Homo sapiens: one gene and its partners. The protein of the gene in region 4 purifies or fractionates together with the protein of the main gene of each other region. This does not show direct contact. Each region holds a gene or a part of one and is shown on either strand. Other genes may lie near its edges. The genes, in order: KIF13B, KIF1C, DCLK1, INPP5E, NAV1, ZBTB21 and TANC2.

Evidence for each region.
Region 1: the proteins of INPP5E (region 4) and KIF13B purify together in Homo sapiens (affinity purification with mass spectrometry, with the first as the bait; one large-scale study listed by BioGRID). This does not show direct contact.
Region 2: the proteins of INPP5E (region 4) and KIF1C purify together in Homo sapiens (affinity purification with mass spectrometry, with the first as the bait; one large-scale study listed by BioGRID). This does not show direct contact.
Region 3: the proteins of INPP5E (region 4) and DCLK1 purify together in Homo sapiens (affinity purification with mass spectrometry, with the first as the bait; one large-scale study listed by BioGRID). This does not show direct contact.
Region 5: the proteins of INPP5E (region 4) and NAV1 purify together in Homo sapiens (affinity purification with mass spectrometry, with the first as the bait; one large-scale study listed by BioGRID). This does not show direct contact.
Region 6: the proteins of INPP5E (region 4) and ZBTB21 purify together in Homo sapiens (affinity purification with mass spectrometry, with the first as the bait; one large-scale study listed by BioGRID). This does not show direct contact.
Region 7: the proteins of INPP5E (region 4) and TANC2 purify together in Homo sapiens (affinity purification with mass spectrometry, with the first as the bait; one large-scale study listed by BioGRID). This does not show direct contact.

Annotation. Positions count from the first base shown.
Region 1 is NC_000008.11:29,144,571-29,148,070, forward strand, and holds part of KIF13B (kinesin-like protein KIF13B), read right to left. Parts: intron 3,033-3,500; coding exon 2,822-3,032; intron 1,971-2,821; coding exon 1,808-1,970; intron 1-1,807. UniProt on the Homo sapiens protein: Involved in reorganization of the cortical cytoskeleton. Regulates axon formation by promoting the formation of extra axons. May be functionally important for the intracellular trafficking of MAGUKs and associated protein complexes.
Region 2 is NC_000017.11:5,025,426-5,028,901, reverse strand, and holds the end of KIF1C (kinesin-like protein KIF1C), read right to left. Parts: 3' UTR 501-3,476; downstream 1-500. UniProt on the Homo sapiens protein: Motor required for the retrograde transport of Golgi vesicles to the endoplasmic reticulum. Has a microtubule plus end-directed motility.
Region 3 is NC_000013.11:36,128,583-36,132,662, forward strand, and holds the start of DCLK1 (serine/threonine-protein kinase DCLK1), read right to left. Parts: upstream 2,801-4,080; 5' UTR 2,532-2,800; intron 1-2,531.
Region 4 is NC_000009.12:136,433,346-136,436,845, forward strand, and holds part of INPP5E (phosphatidylinositol polyphosphate 5-phosphatase type IV), read right to left. Parts: intron 1,519-3,500; coding exon 1,395-1,518; intron 790-1,394; coding exon 692-789; intron 1-691. UniProt on the Homo sapiens protein: Phosphatidylinositol (PtdIns) phosphatase that specifically hydrolyzes the 5-phosphate of phosphatidylinositol-3,4,5-trisphosphate (PtdIns(3,4,5)P3), phosphatidylinositol 4,5-bisphosphate (PtdIns(4,5)P2) and phosphatidylinositol 3,5-bisphosphate (PtdIns(3,5)P2).
Region 5 is NC_000001.11:201,824,798-201,827,469, forward strand, and holds the end of NAV1 (neuron navigator 1), read left to right. Parts: 3' UTR 1-2,172; downstream 2,173-2,672. UniProt on the Homo sapiens protein: May be involved in neuronal migration.
Region 6 is NC_000021.9:41,996,861-42,000,360, forward strand, and holds part of ZBTB21 (zinc finger and BTB domain-containing protein 21), read right to left. Parts: intron 1-3,500. UniProt on the Homo sapiens protein: Acts as a transcription repressor.
Region 7 is NC_000017.11:63,424,235-63,428,203, reverse strand, and holds the end of TANC2 (protein TANC2), read right to left. Parts: 3' UTR 501-3,969; downstream 1-500. UniProt on the Homo sapiens protein: Scaffolding protein in the dendritic spines which acts as immobile postsynaptic posts able to recruit KIF1A-driven dense core vesicles to dendritic spines.

The DNA of each region.
Region 1 (3,500 bases), on a different chromosome or scaffold from region 4:
AATTAAAGGCCCTCCTACCTTATATTCAGCCAGCCAGTGAATAAATACAAAAATCCCATTTGTGACCTGTGTGGGTAGTGGCTTTCCTGGGGGAGAATGCTGGACCTGGGACTATAATAGCAACGGGCAATATGGTGCAGCTACCATAACTTAGCCCTCTTGCAAAACTGGAAATAAGAAAAAAATTCACCAGAGAAGAGTTCACAGAATGGACAGGACTTTAAACAACTTTTCAAATACCAAAAAATAGTCTGTTGCACGAAAGACTACAGAGTCAGCCTAACTAAGGAGAGATGCCAGGCGACATGAGTTCTTCCAGGCGTTGACATGGCTGCCCCAGTGCAGAGCCACACCTTTCAACAAAGCCCAAAAGAGGTTACGGAGAAAAGGGCTGCGGTCATGCTTACTGGGGAAAAATCTTTCAGGTTTCTGCTTTTTTCAACTTATACACTATAAAATCAAAGAGGATCTTGTACTTCTCAGCCTTCAAGGAGAAACTAGGCCCTGAACCTTCTCCTTGTGACTGGCCTTCCTCTTCGGTTTTTGGTGAGTCCTACTGTACCCAGACTTTGCCCTACAAATACTAGTGTTCTAATTAAGTAAAAATTTTCAAAATACACACAGAGTATACAAAAACAATGATCTGTAAAGTAACGATCATATCATATTTACAATACCTTTCTCAAAATACTAAGAATCATATTTGCCAAATATCTAACCCTGTACAAAACGCTGACCTTGATGCTATGATGTCATAGGGAAAGATGTAATCCTTGCTATCAAATTAGAATAATATCCGCCTGTAATCCCAGCACTTTGGGAGGCCAAAGCAGGTGGATCACTTGAGGTCAGGAGTTTGAGACCAGCCTGGCCAACACAGCAAAACCCCATCTCTACTAAAAATACAAAAATTAGTCCAGCGTGGTGGCACACACCTGTAATCCCAGATACTGAGGAGGCTGAGGCAGGAGAATCGCTTGAACCCAGGAGGCAGATGCTGCAGTGACCCAGGATCACACCACTGCATTCCAGCCTGGGTGACAGAGTAAGACTCCCTCTCAAACAAAAAAAAGAAAAATAGAATATCCAAGATGGATTGATTAAAGTTTTGCTGTGTTGACTACCGCAGGCTAAACAGAACACACGGATCCACAAAAAATTCATCTGAATAGAAAATTCTACCTAATCCATCAAAAATTATGTATGAATGTGATCAAGAGCTAGAAAAGAACCTCAAAAAAAAAAAAAAAAGATGAAGGAAAAAAACCCAACTGAATGGCAAAGATAGAAGATTGTGATGGGACTTTCCCCCTACATTTTATTAAATTTATTATACCAAAAAAAGTATGATCCTGAATATATACATGACACCATGACACAACTAATGAGCAGTTTTACAGAGCAAGCTATTCCAAGTAGAAAATAACATAAGCAAAATGAACACCTAACTTGTGGAGAAGGGGTTGTAGAGTGGTAGCATAAGGAAGGAAAAAAAGACATTCGGGGAAGATTAATCAGAAAAGACTTCTAAGAAAGAATTTAAACAGATTTGAAGGAAGAAAGTTGAGTGAAATGAACTGTCAGGGCCAGGTGAGATGCAGAGTATATTCCCCTAGCAGATAAAATATACATACACTCAAAGGTAGAGAATGGAAAAGGAAGTCAATTCTACCCAAAAGCATGGAGGACAAAGGATCTGGACTTGGGGCAGGCACAGACAGGGATCTGAAGCTTAAATAACACCAGGAAATATCAGGCGATCTTATCCAATGAGATCTTTGTTTTTTTCAAGGAACGGCAACCTCACCTTCCTGTTGGCATCCAGGCTGGAGGCTGGAATCTGTAGGGTAACTTTGTATTCTGTTCTTTTATCCAGCTCCTCAGCAATGTAATTAGCTTCTCTCACCAATAGATTGGCCTTAACAATTTGTTCCCTCAGCCTCATCAGGCTGTTATTCAACGTTGCTTCTCTAAAAAAAAATAAAGAAGCGGCAGAGGTAGGGAAGAGATTAACACAAAGCAGCTAGTCAGAAAATCATACAGTGGTAGTACATCATTGCCAAAGTGTGAATTGAGCTTTTTCCGTGGTCGTCTGCACGCAGGGACTGTGTTGCTGACACTGACCCATGCACACGCTTGAACCTCAACTACACGATAAGCACTGGAAAGCAGCCACACAGCAAGCCGGCTGTAGATAACAGCAGTGCCCCTGTATGCAGATCACCAGGGGATCTTCATCAACTCAAGATTCTGTCTCAGCAGGTCTGAGGTGGAGGCCTGAAATCCTACATTTCTATCAATCTCCAGGTAAAAGGGAAGCTGCCTGCCTGCAGACCAAACTTTAAATAGTATGAGGTTAGTGAAGTACAGTCTGCAACCATGGGATAAGGCATTTCAATGCAATGCTAATTAGCCCATACAGAGATCAAATTTGCAATCTGCATCTCATCAGCACCATGCTTTACCTACCTGAGCTAATCAGTCCAGATAACCAACTTTGTTTTTCTAAAAATCATCTACCCAAGCTTCAGAACCTAAAGCATAATACAATGATCAAGTGTACTTCTATATCCAAATCCAAAAGCCATACCAACTGAAAATGGAGCAACACCTAACACCAACAGTTTTAAATAATGCAATATAAATGGGCAATTCCCCTTTTAAAAACAAATGCAAAGTGGTTCTTGGCTGTTAACACTTATCTTTTAACATAATTCTTTTGTAAGCACCATCTTAATGTTCCCATTTGACACTTTCCCTAGGTGTGTTAGAGGTGGCAAGCCTGAGCTATAAAGTTAACAGGCCCCTCTGTGCCGCCTACCTCTCCTCAGCCCACTGTCTTAAGCGTTGCTGAGCGCTGGGCGAGTGGAAAGAAAACCTGTCCATGCTCCGGCAGTTCTGCTTCTCAGGAGACAGCCTTCTCCGGAGCTGCTCCAATTCGTGCTCATACATAAGCCTCTGGCGCTCCAGTGCAGATCGTTTTTCTTCTTCATGCTGTTGTTCTAAGCTGTTTAATATGGACTGCATCGGATCTAAACACATTTTTAAAAAAGATACATGATCGAGAGTTACAACATAATAAACTTCAAATGTTGTTCTATATGGTAATGTTGTCTGTCATCTTAACTATACCACCTAATACTTTAAAGACAATTTGGCATAAACTTAGCTTTCCTGACTTTCAATCACTCATGTTGTTATATATTCTCAGACATATCCTCAACCATCTTCCCTGCAGAAAAAGCAGGTCTATTATATGTTCTACACATAACCTAAGACATGGCGAATCCTCCAGAAATACAATCATAAGCCAATGACAGGCAAGTTTCTAAAGCAGAGAAATTTGACCGGGCACAGTGGCTCACACCTGTAATCCCAGCATTTTGGGAGGCCGAGGTGGGCGGATCACCTGAGGTCAGGAGTTTGAGACCAGCCTGGCCGACATGGCGAAACCTTGTCTCTATTGAAAATACAAAAGTGAGCCAGGCATGGTGGTGTGC
Region 2 (3,476 bases), on a different chromosome or scaffold from region 4:
CTGGGAGGTTGAGGCTGTAATAAGCTGTGATGGCACCACTGTACTCCAGCCTGGGCGACAGAGTGAGATTCCTTCTCGAAAATAAATAAAAGTTAAAAAAAAAAAAAAAAAAAAAAGGCCAGGCATGGTGGCTCATGCCTGTAATCCCAATACTTTGGGAGGCTGAGGTGGGCGGATCACTTGAGGTCAGGAGTTCAAGACCAGCCTGGCTAACATGCCAAAACCCCATCTCTACTAAAAATACAAATATTGGTCGGGCATGGTGGCACATGCCTGTAATCCCAGCTACTTGGGAAGCTGAGGCCGGAGAATCGCTTGAACCCGGGAGGCGGAGGTTGCAGCGAGCGGAGATCATGCCACTGCACTCTAGCCTGGGCGACAAGAGCAAAACTCCATCTCAAAAAAAAAAAAAAAAAGGTTGGGGGGAGAACAATTTCAAACCAAACCAAATTTGAAGCTCTGAATATAGAAAGGTATAAATAAGACTGGTGGAGAAAAAATGTATTTGATCCCCAAATTTATTCAAGATACAAAAGTTCCAGGTGACAACAACAACAAAAAACATGTCTAAAAGAATAACCAACATATGTCGGTATGGTGTGAGAAGCTAAAAATAAAATAGTAACCAACAAAAGGAAAGCAGCTCCAAAGAAAGACAATGAAGAAAAGCAAATTAATTTCCAAGAAAACCAAGGATGACAGTGTAGAAATGTCAAGACGGAGTGAGCTAGAAAACTGAGATTGTTTGGGTGACTTCTCATGATTCCAGAGGAGGCCCACGAAATAGCTGCTGTCACTCACAGGACAGCCTGGGCAATTTGAGAGGGAACAGAAACTAGACGCAAGTTCATGAAATGCCTGGGAAGATTGAATTTGAGGAGAAGGCCCCATGGATTCTAAGCGAGGTGATGGTGATGTCTGATGTTCTTTTTATTTTTATATATACATTTTTAAGACAGGGTCTCCTGGTGGTGCAATCACAGGTCACCGCAGCCTTGACCTCCCAGGCTCAAGCGATCCTCCCACCTCAGCCTCCCAAGTAGCTACAGGTGTGAGCCAGTACACCCGGCTAATTTATATATTTTTGTAGAGACAGGGTCTTGTTATGTTGCCCAGGCTGGTCTCAAACTCCTGAGCTCAAACAGTCCTCCCGCCTCCGCCTCCCAAAGTGCTGGGATTACAGACATAAACCACCGCACCCAGCCAATACTTGATGGCCTAGAGGGGTGAGATGGGGTTTGGGCTTTAGTTATGTTGACCTGGGTTGGAATCCTAACTTTGCCACTTAAGAACTGTCTGAATTTGGGCAACTCATTAATCTAAACCAACCTCAGTCTTCAGGAGCCAGGCACGGTGGCACATGCTTGCAGTACCAGCTGCTTGGCTTGGGAGGCAGGATTGCTTGAGCCCAGGAGTTCGAGTTCAGCCTGGGCAACATAGCAAGATCTTGATTCTAAAAAAATAAATAAATAGGCTGGGCGTGGTGGCTCACGCCTGTAATCCCAACATTTTGGGAGGCAGAGGCGGGTGGATCACCTGAGGTCAGGAATTCGAAACCAGCTTGGACAACATAGTGAAACCCTGTCTCTACTAAAGATACAAAAAATTAGCCGGGTGCGGTTGTGGGCGCCTGTAATCCTAGCTACTCAGGAGGCTGAGGCAGGAGAATCGCTTGAACCCAGGAAGCGGAGGTTGTAGTGAGCCAAGATTGTGCCATCGCACTCCAGCCTAGGCAACAGAGCGAGACTCCGTCTCAAAAAATAAATAAATAAAAATAAATAAACAAAACCTCAGTCTTCCCATCTGAAAAATGCAGACAAAAGACCTATTTTACCGGGGTACTTTAAAGACTAAATCAAATGCATATGGAATGCCGGCACAGGTAGCACAGATGAAAAATAAACAGGCACTACTCTGAATAAAATCTAAGTAAAGTTTGCCCACAGTATTATTTTTGATTTTTATTTTTTGTAGAGATGGGGGGGGCAGTCTCACTATGTTGCCCAGGCTGGTCTCAAATTCCTGGCCTCAAGTGATGCTCCCACCCTAATATTCCAAAGTGTTGGGATTACGGGTGTGAGCCACTGTGCCTGGCCCGTGCACATTATTAAAGACTGACTTGGAAGGCTGGATATGTGGATTTTTTTTTTTTTTTTTTTTTGAGAGAGTCCCACTCTTGCCCAGGCCAGAGTGCTGTGGTGCCTTCACAGCTCACCACAGCCTCAATCTCCATGGGCTCAGGTGATCTTCCTACCTCCCTAGTAGCTGGAACTACAGGTACACACCACCACACCCAACTAGTTTTTCTATGTTTTGTAGATACAGGGTTTCACTATGTTGCCCAGGCTGGTCTCGAACTCCTGGACTCAACTGATCCTCCTGCCTCAGCCTCCCAAAGTGCTGGGATTACAGGTGTGAGCTTCTGTGCCCAGCCATAAGTGGATTTTTAAAATTATGGATAATATACATTTACATAAGTCAAGGTCTTTAGGGAAAAATAATCCGTCTTTTAAATTAGCAAGCTATTTTTCTCATCTCAAACCCCACAGCATTCTCGGTAACACTCAACTCAGCTCCCTCTGACCTCCAGAAAACTTGGTATTCTATCATTTTCTTGCTCACATTGAGTCTCCCTGGCCAGATTTTAAACTGCTCAAGCAAACACTGTTGCCAAACCATCCATTACATTCCAGATCTTGAGTCACTGTCAACAGGTCTGTGAAAACCTGGCAGTCAGAGGTGTCAAAGTAAAGGCAGGAGCATCAGGGTGTGGAAACCTAGAGTAAACCTAATCGTTCCTTCGCCCAGAGCCGTGGTTTGGCTGCAGTTGGGATATCTATGGTTTTGGCTGGAGACTGACCCCAGGAAGCTGTGAAGCAGTAGCTCAGAGCTTCAAGTGGGTCAAAGTGTTTTCCTGAGAACAGGATGAAAATGTGGGGACTCCAGAGTCTGGCAAGCCAAAGGCAGTGCTGTAGTACAATCTAACCTGCAAAATCCTGGCAATGTGGCATAGTCAAGGGCTCGCTGCCTCAAGCCAGAACATTAAAACAAGCAGGCAACAAACAGTTTTTTAATTTTTCTTGAAATGGAGTCTCGCTCTGTCGCCCAGGCTGGAGTGCAGTGGCGCAATCTCAGCTCACTGCAAGCTCCGCCTCCCAGGTTCATGCCATTCTCCTGCCTCAGCCTCCTGAGTAGCTGGGACTACAGGCCCCCGCCACCATGCCCGGCTAATTTTTTTATTTTTATTTTTAGTAGAGATGGGGTTTCACCATGATAGCCAGGATGGTCTCGATCTCCTGACCTCGTGATCCACCTGCCTCGGCCTCCCAGTGCTGGCATTACAGGCGTGAACCACTGCGCCTGGCCAACAAACAGTCTTAACACAAATAAAATAACGACTGGGAACAATGATGTAGCCTGCCAGAAGGCAGGTAACACAACCAGGATGAAAACAATCAGGTAAGCGCAGTATGCTT
Region 3 (4,080 bases), on a different chromosome or scaffold from region 4:
CTTATGGGTCTATTGCTGACCCCACTGAAGGTCTGGGGAGGGAGAAATGAAGTGTGATTTAAACCTGGAGTGTTAATGAGTTCAGTGTACTTTTTTCCCTCCAAATATGAAAACTATTTCTTGCCTCTTAATAACTCATAGTAGTCAGAATTTGCATTTTTCAAAAACAGTTATATATAGGCAGCTCTGAACTGGTTTCATTGATTTTGATGTTAGATAACTTTAAAACAATGATCCCTTGATATCCAGTCCTGTAGGCATTAGTTGTTAAACAGAACCAATTTTTGTCCAGGATATTGGTAACTGCTCTTACTTTTTAATTTATATGGTTTTAAAGTGAGCTCTCTTGTCTTCTAAAAGGGAGTGTGTCTTGGGGGTGGAGTGGAAGACACTCCCAGTACTCACACCAACTCACTAAGTTCTTCAACATTTTGTAAATTATAAAGGCCAAACTCACTTTTGAAGTTTGTGTTTTATTCTTAAAGGCAGTGATCATTCTCCCAACACTAGGAGTTTGGGGATTTCCTTCCAAATTGATATAAACTAAAAGAAAACAAGCAGGGCCATAGGGAAGGATGGCACAGTTCTGTTACCAGAAAGAGTGCACATCGAATTCTCAGTGACTGACAATTGGCAAAGGCCAAATAATTTGGCAATAGTTAGAATTCCCTGGGGGAACGGGCTTTTAGGACCAAGAATTCCCACACCAGATGAAAAAAGAAGAAAAGAACAATTTAAAATAGAAAAAAGGTTTACTTTGTTTCATTTTATTTGCATATTTCCTCAAACTGGATCACAGGTTCATCCAGGGCAGGGCTACACCTTTTACTTCCCTTCCCTGAATCTGTCCAAAAGTGGGCAATGGTGTCGACAAAAGAAACCATACTCAGAGTGAAATCATTTTCAAGGCTACAGCTACCTCTAAATGGAGCACACTCCACACCCTAGTGTGCTGGTAATTATTCGTGGCAACAAAATAGGTGTTCTTTCCCTCACCTTGGCTTAGTCATACATTTGAACCATGCATGAGCTTCTGAAGATCCACTGGCCTTCCACAGGTTTACACTTTCTGCACAGGAAGGCTGCGAGAACACACAGCTCAATGTTCAGAGACCATAGGTGGCCAAGGGCCTGAGTGCACATGTGCAGTGGCACCAGGATGGTAACCACAGCACCTCAGCCACAGCGACCACAGACACTGGAGGTAAGAAGGGCCACTGGCTCTCATCAGAGCTTTTCCTATAAATCCTGCCATTTCAAGAAACCAACATCCCTGATTGTTCTCGGTGGGATTTCTCACCATTTTGAGGAATCTATGTTCATCCTTCTCTAGATGAGCACATGGTTCTTGTTTCAGAAATTTACACACATATATACCAAGAAAAAAATGGCATAAATGCTACCACATCTAAATAGATGCTGGACCTGGAAGTCCCAAGGCATATTTTAACCGTGGGATTAGGATTCAGGTGGACTGGCATGAAATAAAACGCACACATACCTTCCAGGCCCGTGCACCACCACGGACGTAGACATCACAGGGTGTGTGCATATCTTTTATAATTTTCCTCTATATGACCTCTCTTAAAAAATCCCTTCTGACCTGCATCCATGTGACATTTCATACTTAAAACGCTGTCCTACTTTCCTTTCCCACTGAAAGGCAATATATTTAGGAACAGTCATAAAATGTATTCACGGAACAGCCTGCAGTGTGGTCGCTGAACGTGTGTGCACCGTGCCTGGACACACTCACAGGTGCAGCAGAGAGGGAGCCGGTTTGAATGAAACCTTTCATCTTCTCTCTCACCGACCAAGCATCTCCTTGCCAAATCCAGGAGCAATTCCGCGCAAACCTGGTTTTCAAAAGCAGCCTCTTTTGTGGGGCATTGCGGGGCTGTGCGTGCGCTCCCACTAGGAGGAAAAAATGCCATTTCCTCTCCGCAAGCTTTTAGCACTGCAGGTACTAATTTGAACATGAGGCAGCCTCGCTGTCCCTGAAGGAACTTGAGACCCTGCAAACGTACTTGCAACACCCACGCTGCAGCCACCACCACGCACGAATCGACCCCATCCACAAGCACACATCACTGGCCCGGGCACACGGAAAAGCACACACACAATAAGAGGCCGGGCCCGGCCACTCCTTCCTTGGTTCCCGCTCCGCAGCCAGTTCTGACAATGACAAGCACCTCTCCCAGCTCCTCCGCCCTGGCTCTCCATCTCCACTAACAACGCGAAAAGCCTGGGAGGGCCCGCTCGCCTGACTCCAGGTTTAAAGCCCCATGGCACCAAACAAAAGAGGCAGGTGCCAGCAGCCCCGGGGCCGCCCGCACGCAACGCCCCCGGGTCGGGCCAGGCTGGCCAGGGCAGGGCGGCCGCCTTTCGAGGAACTGCGGGCGGGGCGGCGGGGCCAAGCTGAGCGCCCGCCCTGCCCTCGGCGCCCCGCGGCTGCGGGCGGAGCGGGCTCTGCGGAGTCCCCCGGCCGCCCTCCCCGCAGCTCCCGTCCCCAGGGAAGGCAAACCACGCACCGGTCCGCGGAGAGACGCCGCCGGGGGTCTTTGTGGCCGCGCTGGGGGCCGCCTCCTGGTGCTGTCCTCGCCGGGCTGGGCGCGGCCGGGGCTGCGGGGCTGCAGGGCTGGGGGGCGGCGGCGGGGCCGGGCTGGGCGGCAGCAGCTGCTGGAGCGCGGCGCCTCGGTTGCGGCCACTAGTGCAGGGATGTGCCTCGGCCCGTCCTCATTGAAATGCGGCGCTTCGCACAGCCTCACTCCAGCCTCTCTCTCCAGAGGAGGGCGGCGGCGGCGGCGGCGGCGGGCGCGCTCCCTTTTCTTGTCTCACTCGCTCACACGCCCTCCCGTCTCCCTCCTCCTCCTCCTCCTCCGCGTGCGCGCCCCGTCGCCCCCGCCCTTCTTGGCAGGGCGCACCCACCACGGCTGCGCCCCAGGTCCTCCTCCCTCCCAGCGCCCTCTTCCCACCGCAGCAACCTCGGTGCATCTGGCTTGACTACACCCCTAAACCTCCCTAGTCCCCACAAGTAGTCTTTGGGAGATGGGGGCAGATCAGATGGTGGAAGAGAACGTGGACAGGGCTGAGTCTGAGCCAGGAAGTGTGCAAGGCACAGAGGTGATATGGCCGAGAGATGAGGCCCCCACCGTCGGGGGAGGGAAGGAGGTACCCACACTCATACCTTTTGATGTGACCTCACGGTCTGACACCTTTCCCAGGGTATGGAAGCCAGTGGATCACCTTCTCATCCTTTTTGCCCGGGATGCACCCACGCAGTGCCTCTTCGGATGACCAACCCTCCCAAGCTATGCACTCTGGTGCCCCCCACATTGGGAAGAGCTGGATCTGTTCATGGATCCCACCCATCATCTCCACTTAACCCCAAGACATGAGTCACTCTTGGAATAGTGACCTCTGCTTAGAGTCAAATATGTTCCAAAGGGCCCTTGAGAACTGAAGGGCCAGGTTTCACTGCTGGACACTTTGTGGCTGCCAAGGCTGGGTCTGCGGTGGAAAGCCCCATGAGCTCATGCGAGCCTCTCCTCCCAGAGGGGGAATGTTCTCCTAGCCCAGGCTGTTCACAGCTTCCTCCAGTCTTTGCACAAAAGTCCAGGGAGTGGGAGCAGCTCCCAGATTTCGGTGAAATCTTAGACTGGCTCAGTACGCAGCCTGAATTTTGATCCAGTTAATCTGACTTTCAATCCTGTCGTCCACAACCTGTGTTTGTCCCAAATACACATGAGTATACAAAATACACATAAGTATTTTTCTCTCTTCCTGAGCCTACACCTTTCAATGGAACATTAAAATTTTATTTTTCTCTTGCCCATTGATCCCAGTTATGTGTTTGACTACTTATTATTAAAAAGTTCTATTCTGAAATACTTTCCAAGTATGATGTAAATGTTAAATAATTACCATTTGTTTTAAAACACAGCTCAAATGAGATCCATGCTACATATTCCACAAGTGATGCGATATTTATTTTTGAACTATTTAATAGCCCAGAGATGAGAGTACAGTGAACTCACCAAATTAACTAAATGCAAAGTAGTAAGCCTATTCTTTCACATT
Region 4 (3,500 bases):
TGCCCAGAGCCCCTCGAGGAGCTACCAGGGAAACCCCACGACCTGGCCTTGGTGTCTTGCGCGGAGAAGCAATTGCCAGAAGGCCTGGTGGGCCAGAGTTGGGACCTGCCGGGGGCCACAGGCCCCAGTTCCACTTGAGTGGCTCCCCTGGACCCCCGCCGAGACCCCAGTGAGCAGAGCTCCTCCCGCCTGAGGGACTCATGGGCCAGGGAGGTGGGGCCCACCTCAACTCCTTCCCCCAGAGCACCTGTGTGGGCGGCAGCCACCTGCTGTTCCCGCCATGACATGGGGGCCCGGGAGGCCTTGGGGCCCGGCCCTGCTCCGGCTGCCCTTCTACTCTCGCACGCCAACAGTTTGTTACCAAAATCAAATCTCATTGATTTTAAACTCTCCGAGTTGCCACTGGAAAAAAATCTGACCCATGCCTCCCACCCAGGCGTGGAGGCTGCCCGTGCCCGGCCGCCACCCGGGTCTCAGCGCCCAGCAGCTTCAGAGACGGCAGCCCCCGGGCAGGCACTGCAGATCTGTGCCCGGCCACGAACCGGGTATCAGCGCCCAGCAGCTTCACAGATGGCAGCCCCCGGGCAGGCACTGCAGACCCGTGCCCAGCCATGACCACAGGTCTCAGCACCCAGCTGCTTCAGAGACGGCAGCCCCTGGGCAGGCACTGCAGGGCCTGCAGCCGCCCTACCTGTCAGAACAGCCCTCCTGGACCCCGATGACATACAGGTCCTGGGCATAGTCGGCCTCGGCTGGGAGCAGGAACTCGTCCAGGCTGGGCGGGAGCTCCTGGAAGGAGGGAGCATGTGGTGGGCCGGCTCCTCCCGAAACCTGCAGGCGCCTGTGGGTGAATCCCACTGCGGTGCCTTGAGTACCAGCGACTCCTCCGAATGAGGGGAAACTGAGGCCAGGGCCAAAAAGGGAGCTGCCCGGTCTCCGAGGCAGCCTCTGACACACCAAACACGCCTCACGTTGGCCCTCGGCCTGTTTCCCTCTCCAAGCACGAGTCTGTCCAACGACCACCCCTGTATGACCCTCCCGTCACCATGACCCCAGCCCGTGCTGCCCACCCTGTCCCTGAGCCACCCCTACGCGTGCCCCGCTGGCCGCCCTCCCGCTCACCTTGAGCAGGTGATTCTCGGCCAGGCCCGTTGCCCCAACCCCCTCCCCTACTTTCTGCAGCCACGTGGCCAGGGAGGTGCAGGTGGGAGCTCTGGGGGATGGGGGTCCTTACCCACTCTCACCCTCCTGTACTGCGGTTAGCAGTGGGGTGCACCTCGGGGCTCTGCCCTCCTGGCCCCAGGATGAGGCACAGAGCTGCCCCGTCCCCCTCACCCGCCTTTGTCCAGCACCACCCCACCCTTCCCCGCCCAGCACCACCCACAGCCACTCACCTTCTGGCCCTGCATGTTCCAGGTGGCCACGAAGAGTGCCACGTTCCGGTCTGGGAAGTAGCGGGCCAGCTCATCCGCCCCCAACAGGGCCCCGCTGGCCAGGAGGCTGCCCTCCAGGTAACTCCTGTGACGGGAGGACCCCAAGCTCAGGGCCAGGCACAGGACACATCCCTGGGGGTCTGGGCCAGGTCCCCAGGGACAATAGCAAAACCCATGGAATGTCAGGAGCTGCCCCCAGCCCCAAGCAAGGACTCTCCTGGCCCCCGCGGCACTGCTGTCTGCTCTCCAGGAACACAAGGCCTGACCTGGTTGCACAAACACCCAGAGCGGGTTCACACCCCCTCCCTACCTCCCGGGAAGAGGCATGAGAGGGTGACGGTTTGGGCTTTTTGGTGGTGGGATCCTGGAAAAGCCACAGAGAGGAGCTCCCAAACTATAAGCCAAGGCAGTGGGCACAGGGTGCTGTTCGGGGAGGGGCTGGTCCTCCTCCTTTCTCCTTTGGCCCCAGCACCAGGCAGGACGGTCTAAGATACAGAGACCACACGAGCCACACGGAAACGCGTCCATCTCCTCGACACCCCGTGGCTTTGACGCACTTTTGGGTTTGCTTGTTTTGGTTTCTAGTGGGGACAGGGTCTCACTCCGTGCCCAGGCTGGAGTGCAGTGGCACTAACACAGCTCCCTGCAGCCTCTACCTCCCGGGCTCAAGTGATCCTCCTGCCTCAGCCTCCCGAGTAGCTGGGACTCCAGGTGCAGTGCCACCACGCCCGGCTAGTTATTTATTTATTTTTTATTTTTGTAGAAACAGGGTCTCGCCACGTTGTCCAGGCTGATGCTTTCAGATTTTAATACGGCGGTGCACACAGATGGTTAAACACCGTGTGGCACAGCAACGTCCCTGCCCCTCCCCACACTCAGCACCTTCTGCCACGAGGGCTGGTAACCCGTCAAGAGGCAACCGCACACGCCTGCCGCTCCGTGGGACATCCAGTGTCTGTCGCCGTGGGCTCTGCTACGGTGGTGCAAGAGCCACCAGGGGATGTGGACACAAGGGGTGCAGCCGTGTGCCCGAGACGCTTGATTTACAGACACTGAAATCTGAATTTTACAATTTTCTTGTACTATGAAACATCATTAGAATGGTTTTGACTTTTTCCAACCATTTGGAAATGTAAAACCCGTTCTCAGCTCGCCGACTATACAGAAACGCCGTGGGCTAGGCTTGCCAGCCGTCCTCCCCGCTCCCTCTCTAAGTAACACTTGTGCGGCTCCTTCTGGATACGCCGTCTTCTGACATGGTTCCCTTCCGCAAGGGGACACGAGAGCATAGTGCCGGATTCCTGTGACCTCCCGCGAGAACTTCTTCAACCCTGGCTGCGGCTCACCAAGCTTCACTGGACACGTTAAATCATGTCAGCAGGGAGGAACCTCGCTACCTCACCCCTAAAACTGTCGACAATCCCGGTCGGGACAGCTGTGTTCACACAGTGGTCATTCGGGACAGAGAGCGTTCCTGTGGGCACCCCTGTCAAGTGATCCCGGGCCCAGCAGGGGCTCCTCGGTCACCAGGCTGGAGGCCCACGGCCCCTTTGCCGGCAGCGCCCATCATGTCCACACCAGCAGCCACGTGGTCAGTCTGCCCAGCTCTGTCCAGAGCATGGTTAGTAACAGCAGGCCAGGGGCGGCCCTCACAGCCATTCCTGTGTCTAGACACGGGCAGGGGCAGAGCTGCCTCGGACCCCCATCCAGGGCCAGGACACTGCACAGCTTCTGCATGAGGACGCTCAGGCTGGCTGCCACAGCCTGGGCCAGCTCTCCGAGCAAAAGGAACGGGTGGGGAAAGGCCCCCTAACCCGCCCTGGCAGCCCCAAGGCACTGGCAAAAGCCAGCAGCCATTCTCAAACAGGGCGGACCCAGCCCGTGCACACGCGGCCCGCAAACTCAGAATGGGTTTTACTGTGTGGAACGGCAGAGAAAGAAAAAAGAGCGAGGTTCCAATGTATGTCCCTAATAGACTCACTGGCACACAGACGCCCTTTGGTCCCCACTGTCTGTGTCTCCCCCTTGACAGAAAGAGTGCGCCGACTCCTATTCTAGAACAGACCG
Region 5 (2,672 bases), on a different chromosome or scaffold from region 4:
GCATCAGCAGCCTTTGGGAACTTGTTAGAAACGAAAATTCTCAATCCCATCCCAGATCTGCTGAATCAGAAACTCTAATGAGAGGACCCGGCAATCCACGTTTTAATAAGCCCTCCTGGTGATTCTGATGCACACTAAATTCAACTGTTTTAAAGGGAAAGCCCTTTATAGTATTGGAGTTCCCACACTGAGAGGCTTTGGGGCCCAAAATAAGAAGGTTCTAGGTTGTCATTCAGACTTTAACATTAATTTCAAAGTCACCTTTCTCATGCTTCCTTGTGTTTCTGTTTTTCCATTTATGATTTTAACAAAGAAAGGTATGTGTGCTTTTGGGTGGAAGTTAGGAGAATGTTTGTGTCTTTCCTAGTTGAATACAACCTTCAGAGAAAAACCTTATGCCTTGGAAATTACTACCTGGCACACAAAGGGGCTTCAACAAGGAAAAGCAGTTGGAGGTCTCTTCCAGATTGCTCTTCTGCCGAATTATTTGTATCTATTCCGAGCTGATTATGTAATAGGATGGAAAAAGTAAAAAAAAAAAAAAAAATCTAATTTGTATTTCCATGACAACGTGTTCTCCCAGCAACATCCCTCTCCTTTATTTGAGTTATAAAGGGCACTGCTGGGCCTGAGAACCAGGCCAGAACCTCCTTCTGTATGGCAGCTAACAGTGTAGGGCTCCAGTATCCCAGGAAGGCCCCTTATCCACACTCCACTCAGCTCATAGGAGAGTCTTGCATAATGAAGACACAGACCTGGGCACTTCAGTCCTTGTGCTCCTCCTCTCTTTTCCCCACAGCAGGACCTGGATACAGAAGTACTCAGCCAAGGTGACAGAATAAAATCCTTTTTTTGTTGTTTTCTGTTTGTTTGTTTGTTTTGGAGAAGGAGTCTCGCTTTGTCACCCAGGCTGGTGTGCAGTGGCACGATCTCGGCTCACTGCAACCTCCGCCTCCCAGGTTCAAGCGATTCTCCTGTCTCAGCCTCCTGAGTAGCTGGGATTACAGACGTGCGCCATCACGCCCAGCTAATTTTTGTATTTTTAGTAGATACGGAGTTTTGCCTTGTTGGCCAGGCTGTGCTGGAGCTCCTGACCTCAGGTGATTCACCTGCCACAGCCTCCCAAAGTGCTGGGATTACAGGCGTGAGCCACAGCACCCTGCCAAATAAGATCCTTTTTAAAAAATATCTGAAAAAAGCTTCATATCTTTACAAACTCATAAAATAGCTGATTGGGCCATGGAGGAGATGAGGCTGTTTAGAACTGGTTTTGTTTCAAGTTTGTCAATTTTCCCTGTATGAGAACTTGGGTAAAGCACAAAGAAACATACAGTGCTAGTAACAGGTCTCCTGCGCCCTGGAACTAAGTGTTTGGAGGAAGGACTAAACCCCGGGGGAGGTGAGTATAAAATAATTCCACTAAGATCACCTCCTCAGTCCCCAGAAGGCTGATGGTGGATCCTCTGGCCATCTCCTGTGGGGTCTTACTGCTCCTCTGCCATTTCTCTATGCCTGAAGACACGAAGATGATATCAAGGCAGAGCTACCATATCGCAGCCAGTCTCTAGGCTACTGCTGTGCAGTGGCTCCCACTTTCTAATGCTTTTTTGTTTTTGCTTTTTCTAACAAAACAATCTTTTTTCAAAATGAATTCCAACCCCTGCTAGCTTCCTTCCCCGCCTCCATACTGTTTTAGGCAGCACCGTTTATGTGACAGAGTCCGTGTTTCTCAAATGCATGGTGTTCCTCAGGTGGAGAGTGGGCAGAAGTTTTTGCAACACTTTTTTTTTAAGTTATTGGGTGCAAAATCCCAAACCAGGATATGTGTATGTCTGTGTGTTTATGTTTTTTATTTGACCCTCCCCTCTTTCAACCTACCCCCTTTTATATCTAATGTAGAAAAAGCGAAATTGAATCTGGAAAGCAAACTGTTGTATATAGTTGCGGTAACAATCATGAAGAGAGAGCCGGGCTGTCCCCTCAGTAATTCATTTTAAATAACAAATTATTTAAAAATAAAATTCATGCCAGAGCCAGCTGAAGAGGCCTTCCTTCATCACCACTGAGGCCACCCCCAATCTGGGCCCTCTGTCCATCTGGCATGTCTCCTCCCAGCAAGATTCATCTGTTCAATGCCATTTGCGTTTCAATAAAGTTATCTCCTGTACTGTCCACTGGTTCTCTAGCTCCCTCTCTGCCTGGTTTCTGTCTCCATTTATCTTGTGGCCCATTCCTTGATTGGCAAGGCCAGACTGCTTGTGGTCATTTGCCTAACCCAGAAGTAACCTGAAACCCTAAGCTAGAGTCTCCTGACTCCCATGGTTGGGGGTGGGAGGAACCCCTGCTCGCACATTATGGACATAGAATCCTTCACCGGATCTCAAAACATCCAGCCCAAACATCAAGGCTCCGGAGTCCTCCATCTGGGTTGCTGCAGTGTTTGAAAACATACCACCCTCTTGACTTTGCTAAATTTTCTTCTTGGGGTAAAAGTGAACTGACCTATTAGAAGCTGTTGTAATCAAGTTCAACTTCTTTTGGCCACTTCAAGAAAGTAAATAGGCTTACTATTCCCCATTGCAAAATTGAAGGGTCCAAGAAGCAATCTTTTCCCTATGAAATTGTAGTAACATAACTCATCTCTGCCCTCTTAACATGGGAGGTGACAAGTG
Region 6 (3,500 bases), on a different chromosome or scaffold from region 4:
GGAGAGCTGATGGTTTCATAACGAGGAGTTCCCCTGCACAAGTTCTCTCTTCCCTGCCACCATGTGAGATGTGCCCTGCACTCCTTGCCTTCTGCCATAATTACACAGCCTCCCCAGTCACATGGACCTGTGAGTCCACTGAACCTCTTTTTCTTTGTTAGTTACCCAGTCTCAGGTATGTCTTTATTAGCATTGTGAAAATGGACTAATTACACCTGGGTAATTTTTTTTATTTTTTATTTTTAGAAATGGGGCCTCACTATGTTGCTCAGGCTGGTCTCCAACTCGTGGGCTCAAGAGATCCTCCTGCTTCAGCCTCCCCAAGTGTTGGGATTACAGGCATGAACCACTGAGCCTGGCCAAGAGACCTTTAAAAATAGAAAAGAATTTGGAAAGCAAAAAATTATTTGCTAATTACTAATGAAAGTGTTTACGCCAGGCACGGTGGCTCACGCTTGTAATCCCAGCACTTTGGGAGGCCAAAGCGGGCAGGTCACTTGAGGTCAGGAGTTCGAGACAAGCCTGGCCAACATGGTGAAATTCCATCTCTACTAAAAATACAAAAATTAGCCGAGGGTGGTGGCATGTGCCTGTAATCCCAGCTACTCAGGAGGCTGAAGCATGACAATCACTTAAGCCTGGGAAGTGGAGGTTGTAGTGAGCCAAGATTGCGCCACTGCACTCCAGCCTGGTTGACAGAGCAAGACGTTGTCTCAAAAAAAAAAAAAACAAAAAAACAAAAAAACAAAAAAAAGATTAGAAGTGTTGAAGAATAAGTTTGTTTTCTTTCTTATGCTATTTGCCTTGCAATCTCATGAATACTATTTTCTTACCAAATCACATTTTCAACAATAGCACAAAGGAAACTTTAGCCTAGTTCTAAATTTAATTAAAGAGTTTAAACTGATATTTCACTGAAATGCTCTTCAAATCTAAACATGAGAAGAGGAGGCCTAGTGGTAGAGTGCAAGCTCTGGTGCCAGACACTTGGGTTGAGATGCCAGTTCCTTGCAGGCTGGCTGATTGTCCTTGGGTGTTTCTGTTAGCCTCTCGGTGTGGCAGATCCCTCACCTGAGTTAGGAATGACAACTGTGCCCTCCTCTTGCAGGGTTGTTGCAAAGAGTTCATCTAAAGAAAACTCAACAAATGTGCACTTAACTTTCAGAAATTGCAGGATTAATAGGCATCTAATTCAGTATCAAAGAAAGTGGGCAGATTAACCCCACCATACTCTCGATGCAGACAAAGCCATTTCATGCAGAGACAATGCCTGACTCTGTGTATTTGACCCTTTATTTAGGCTTCTGTTCCTCTAACACCTCATCCTTTTCATTTTTTTTTTTTTTTTCTAGACAGGGTCTCGCTCTGTTGCCCAGGCTGGAGTGCAATGACTCAGTCTTGGCTCCCTGCAACCTCTGCCTCCTGGGTTCAAACGATTCTCCTGCCTCAGCCTCCTGAGTAGCTGGGATTACAGGCGTGCACCACCACGCCCAGCTAATTTTTGTATTTTTATATAGTTGGGGTTTCACCATATTAGCCAGACTGGTCCCGAACTCCTGACCTCACGTGATCTGCCTGCCTCGGCCTCCCAAAGTGCTGGGATTACAGGTGTGAGCCACCACAGCTGGCTCATCCCTTTCATTTTATAATGCCATATTTTCTTTCAAATATTGTTAAGACATTTATTTTTAAGATTACATGAATCCCAAGTAACTATCTGTGACGGTTTTATCTTTCTCTAGCGGGCAAACTGTAGATGAACCAAACTTGACCCCAGCTCATTTGTAGGTTCTCTTCTGGCCTTTGCTGGTTACCCCAGCCACCAGGCTCTTCAGGAAGAGCCCAGAGTCTCCTAGGCTGTCAACCTGGGAGTGGCCACACACGGTATACAATTCCTTCTGACTCCCTGATAAGATGCGACTCAATTTAACCGACTGAGACACAGGACTTTGCTTCTAGAGATGATGCCTTTAGCCTGTCCACAAACAACTACTTTGGTCAGACTGTACCAAGTTTCTGTCCACTCCCGCCTACCATCCTTTCAAAGTAAATGGTAAATTTTAATTCCTCTATTTTTTTAAAAAATTATTCTATTTGTGACTACTTGATAATTTCCCTTCCTTTTTCTTCTCTTAGTCATTTAAATTTTCCTTAATCCTACTATACTTTCTTTACATCTATTTGTATGAAGAAACCCTTACCATCTTTTACAGAGATCAGCAGAAAAAGACATAAGCTTATAATGTTACACGTATTGACTCAGCTGGGTACTGAGGAGTTTTTAGCACTAATAATTTTTGACAAAGCTAGTTCAGATGTTGCCACAGGGAAAAGCTGTAACACAGAATTAAAGGTACAGATTTAAAGGCTTGGATAGTCTTTGTCAAAAGGGGTTCTTAAACTCAACTTGGTGGTTTAAAACTAGCAATTAAAAAATAAATGACTAGGACAGAGTAGAAAATATCAGAATGCATCAAATGTCATAAGGCTAATTATGAGCTTGAGAAACTTTTGTTTCTATTATATATATGTACATACCCACATAAGCAAGCATGGACTGGATTGAGATGTAAAATGTATTCCTTCCTGTGGGTCAGTCAAAATATTTTGAGAGCCACTGTTCTAGGCTAACCAACCTCTTTGAGCCTCAGTTTACCTCGCCATAAAATAAGGATAATACTAGCAGCTACCACATAATGCTATTGTGGGAATTAAATAAGATAATAATAGTCGCTACCATTTATATAGCACCTAACTGTACAGGAACCTACACTACAAACTATACCAGAAACTTCTCATGTCATTCATTCATCAAAATGGGATCAAAGAAGGTGTGAAGGAGGCGAGGGATGAGCCATGGAGATAAATGGAGGAAGAACATCACAACAAAGGGAGAAGCTAAGGCAACAGGAGGGATGGAGCAGTGTGTGCTGGGAGCCATGTAAGATGACATCTGAGAGGCAATAAGAAGTAAGACCGTCTAGGGCTGGGAGACCTCCAGAAGAACTTTATTTTTTACTATGGATGAAATGGACAGCCATTGAAGATTCTGAGCAGAGGAATGACAAAGACCTGAATTACATTTCCAAAGGATTGCTCTGGCTCTGTTGTTGAGATTAGACAACAGAGGGTAGGTTATGGGGGAAGCTGCGGGCCAGCTTGCAGTCCACTGTAATGACCCAGATGAGAGAGGATGGTGGCTGGGACCAGGGTGGTAGCAACGGAGGTAAAGGCAGAGTCATTAGAATTTCTAGTGGACAGACTGCAGGAGAAAACAGAAGGTGTGGAGTTAAGTATTCTGCCAAAATAACTGGAAGGGCATCCTTAGGAGAGATGGGGTTTGACAGAAAAACCAGGAGTTCAGATTTTTTAAAGAATTCAGTTTTGATATCCTACACGTGAGCAGCAACCTGTTCATCAATGTACCCTTTATGAGCCTCCATCTCCGCCTTACTGTCCCTACTTCCTTTCTTGTGCTTCCTGGGATCAGTTCCCAAATA
Region 7 (3,969 bases), on a different chromosome or scaffold from region 4:
CCTCTCAGCATGCAGCCTCTAAACACAGCCACTCAAGCTGGCAGCCCACCTCAGCCTTGGCTTTGGTAGGGTGGCTGGATTGGGTGCAGCTTCAGCTACAAAATGAAACAAGAGCTCAGTGCTCCCTGGGTATAGCTAGAGAGAAACCTCTTCCAATGAAGAAAAAGCCCCCCTTTCTCAACAAATGTCACAGGCCTGTGCTGACAGCTCCTTAGAACGGCGTCTCTTGTCCACAGCTCTCTTGAGGGCCTACCACAGTGTCCAACTCTGAGGAGAGGAGGTGCTCAATAACGTGACCGAGCAAATAAATGCACAAAGGGGTGGCTCTGAATGTCCCACAAGAGACCAAGCAAATCATCGGGAATTTGGCCTTAGCCCTAACCTGCCCAATTCCTCCTGAGGGAGGGTGCCCCCATCACTGCATCCTCAGGAGGGTAAGCTTAAAAGCCAGCTCCCTGAAGAGGCTGTAATGGAAGGAGAAAAGCATCACAACACCATGGTTTTCCAAGTGTTAGCCATTTATAAATAAGTACATTTGCTTTCATACATACAGTTCCTTGTACAGATGACAATCTGTATACATGGGGCAGGAAAATGCATTCATTTGAACTTTTCACATCTATCTCACACAGCTCACATGTACAGACAATAAAACTGCTCAAGCAAGTACAGCAAAGGAAAATGTCTTTCCTTATACACAGGGGTAGATGCCTCTGTGGGGTGTGGGGCATCCCCACTGCACGGCTTCACAACTGTGTGGTGTTCAATATATCAGGAGAGAGAACAAACATGCATTGGATAATATACTGTACAGAGAAAGTCCTTTACATCTGAGTCATAGAAAACCTAAAGGAAAACTAAGTGCATTAAAGCTTTTTCCAGCAAGTGTCTTGAAAGGACAGCAAAGAGGAGGAAGAATCAAAATCATATTAGTACAAATCACTCTTTAATTGTAGACTGTACATGTCTGTACTAATTAAAATCATCTTGGATTTGGAGGAGACAGAACAGAGACAAAGATGCTGTGCTAGATGGAAAGGAGGCCACGCCTGAAAAGGCACCTGCCCTGAGCCTGATGAGGAACTGGCCTCACTCAGCAGGAATCAGCCAAAGGAAACAAAAAACAAAACAAAACCAGAACAGGAAGTGTAACTTACAGGATTTCCAAAATCACCTGTGAATGAAGTGGAGATCTGGAGCCGGCATCTCTTAACTTTTTTTTTCCCCCCAGTAAATTGGTATGCAATAAGGCAGGTACATTCAAGTACTGAATTTTCCAGAATTAACTCTTGTCTGGCGCTGGGGACCAAAGGGATTGAGTTGAGCCCCCTCTAACCAGACTTTCTGGTTAGCGATTAGCAAAAGAAAAATTCAGCCAGCAAGTGCTACAAAAACAAAGCAGCTAGGGCACTTCCGTTCCACAGAGTAGGTCTACCTGGAAAAATGAGCGCGGCGCTGGCCTGATCTCTACGCGTCCAGCGGCAGCCTGGCAAGTCAGCTCAGCGTCGGTATCAGAGTCAGCAGGAGGCAATGAGATGATGGGGTGAGGAAACATGAAAGTAACACTTGATTTTTGGTGTCCAATTATGCGTTCATTTGGTACTGACTTTCAAAGCTCTGACTGTGGCCACCATGTGGCCACAAGCATCTCAGGGTGGCTCACCTGCTGTGAGGCTTTGGACACCGAAATGAAGGTTACCAACACTTCAGCCCTTGAGTGGTCTGTATGACAAAAGGAGTTGATGAAAACCCAGTGATTATTCAAGTAGCTCTGCACAGTGGCTCCACCAGCCCCATTGTGCTTGTGTCCAGGCCCCCAGCCAGCCACCTTTTCTTGGGAGCAGCCAGAGCTGAGTTCAAGGCATTGCATGGTGAAGGGTTCCATGACACGTCTTTGCAGGTAGCTCTTGCCCCTAAGCCCTTTGTTCATTGTTGTTAGTCATGGTAGATGGTCGGTCTGGAATTCCTAGAGGAAGAGGAGAAAGAGCTGCACCTCCCAGTGAGCGAGCAGCAGGACCGCACAGCCCTCGGTGTGGAGGCAGCAGCCGGCTGCCTTTGCAGGTCGGTTTCTTGAGAAATGGGCAGCCCAGGAACAGACAGGCAGGGTGTGCGAGGCTGCTGGGCACTGGGAGCATCAAGAGGAGGCTGGGCACAGGGGCGGGCACCTCTTGCCCCCTGGGATAGCCTATTCCATTTTGTGGCAAAGATTCAGTGAGCACTGGTTTTGTCCAAGGCATTTCTGCAGTAGAAAAATAACTCTCTCTGAATCAAACCACCCAACTGTGACGCTTCTGGAGTTATAAAAGCTGGAGGCTGAGAGGAACTGACAGGAGGGAGGCTCATGGGGAAGAAGGGGCTTCTCCATGTACCCATCCCTCTACCAGAGCAAGGGAGCTCTGGTCAACCTTCTTCCAGCCTCTGCCTGGCTGAAGTCCAAAGCATGTAGTGTTCAAAGAGTTCGTCTTGCACAACTGGCACAGATGCACGAAGACCCCTTCCAGGCCTCTGTTGCCTTCTCCTGAACCTCTGAGCCCGCTTGCCTGTTGCCCTGGAAGCAGCTCCTCTCTCCCGAGGGGATGCCGCTGTTCTTTGCTACAAAACAAGCGCAGTGCAGAGCCACAGTGACACCTAGTGGTAAACTATGGTGAAGCACAAGTGACATCCACATAGCCCACTGTACGTGACTAAAATCTAAGGAAAAATACTTATGGATATTAAATTAGATACTGATTAATTTTTAATTTTTTCTATTGGGTACATCTCTGGAATATAAAAATACCAATATTTAGAGAGGGGCTCATAAACTACTATACAATATTAAGGACTGAGAATACCTTTCTCTAAGCTGTTCTGTTTACAATAATTTAGGAAAAGTGTTTAATAATCCAGGCTTAACTACATTAGCAAACTTGTATATCTGGACAACGACCTGGGGTACTGTACATGATTCTAATTAGTGGAATTTTCCTGAGCCATCGAGTTTAAGTTATACACATCTAAAAAGAGGGGCACATGGGGGAGGAGCGAGAAGGGTTTGTGCTCTATTAACTTGGGACTTTAATAGTGCACGTCTGCAACCCGGACAAGATACAACAGCAGATACAAAATGGTCTCCATTTTGTCATGCCAAATTCTCATGTTACACAGGTTTTCCCTTTACTTTGTAAATAAACATTAATTGTTAATTGTTAATTGTGTGCCTTACTGATCCAGTAGATAAAGTAACCGTGTCTCAGGAGTCCCTAAGAACATTGCTGGAAAAGCACTTTAAAATCACTGCAAATATTTTTCATATTAAAAAATTCTTAATCTTTTTGATGCTTATATACAAGTTATTTCTTGTGCTATAAATGTTGTGATCCACTGCTTGATGTCTTTCCTTTCCTTTTTTCTTGAAAAATACACTAAAAGACAAGAGCGGTTCTGCTATTTTCTAATGAAGACATTACTCACACTTAAATATCCAGTACTTCAGTTACAAATTCAAACAGTAAAGTGCACCCATTTATAGACATGATGTGATAGAAACCCATTAGTGCAAGAATCCTGGGCCAATGGAACATACAACTTGGTGAGAAACCTATTAAACTGAAGTTTGTCACCTCTGTCCTCCATTTCAGGGTGGTATGAATTGAGTAAGTTTCATCTGAAACATTTCCTCCCACCTGAAGCCAGACATGGACTCAGCGAGTGTTTGCTGCTGGGGAAGGGGCAGCTCTGAAATACAGTACTCGGATCATTCCATGGCAGTGAAGTAGCAAACAGGGCACAGGGCACAGGCAGTCTGCTTGTAAGGAAAAACGTCTCCTGCCCCAACAAGCTCTGGTTGGCATATTCTAGTCAAAAACAACTGGCATGCAGCAGTGATACCTACTCCCTCTTATGATGGCCAAAAAGAATGGCATTTTGACTGTTGACATTTTAGGTGTTTTGCCCATAGGGTATAGGCCCTAAATCTTTTTGTCCTGG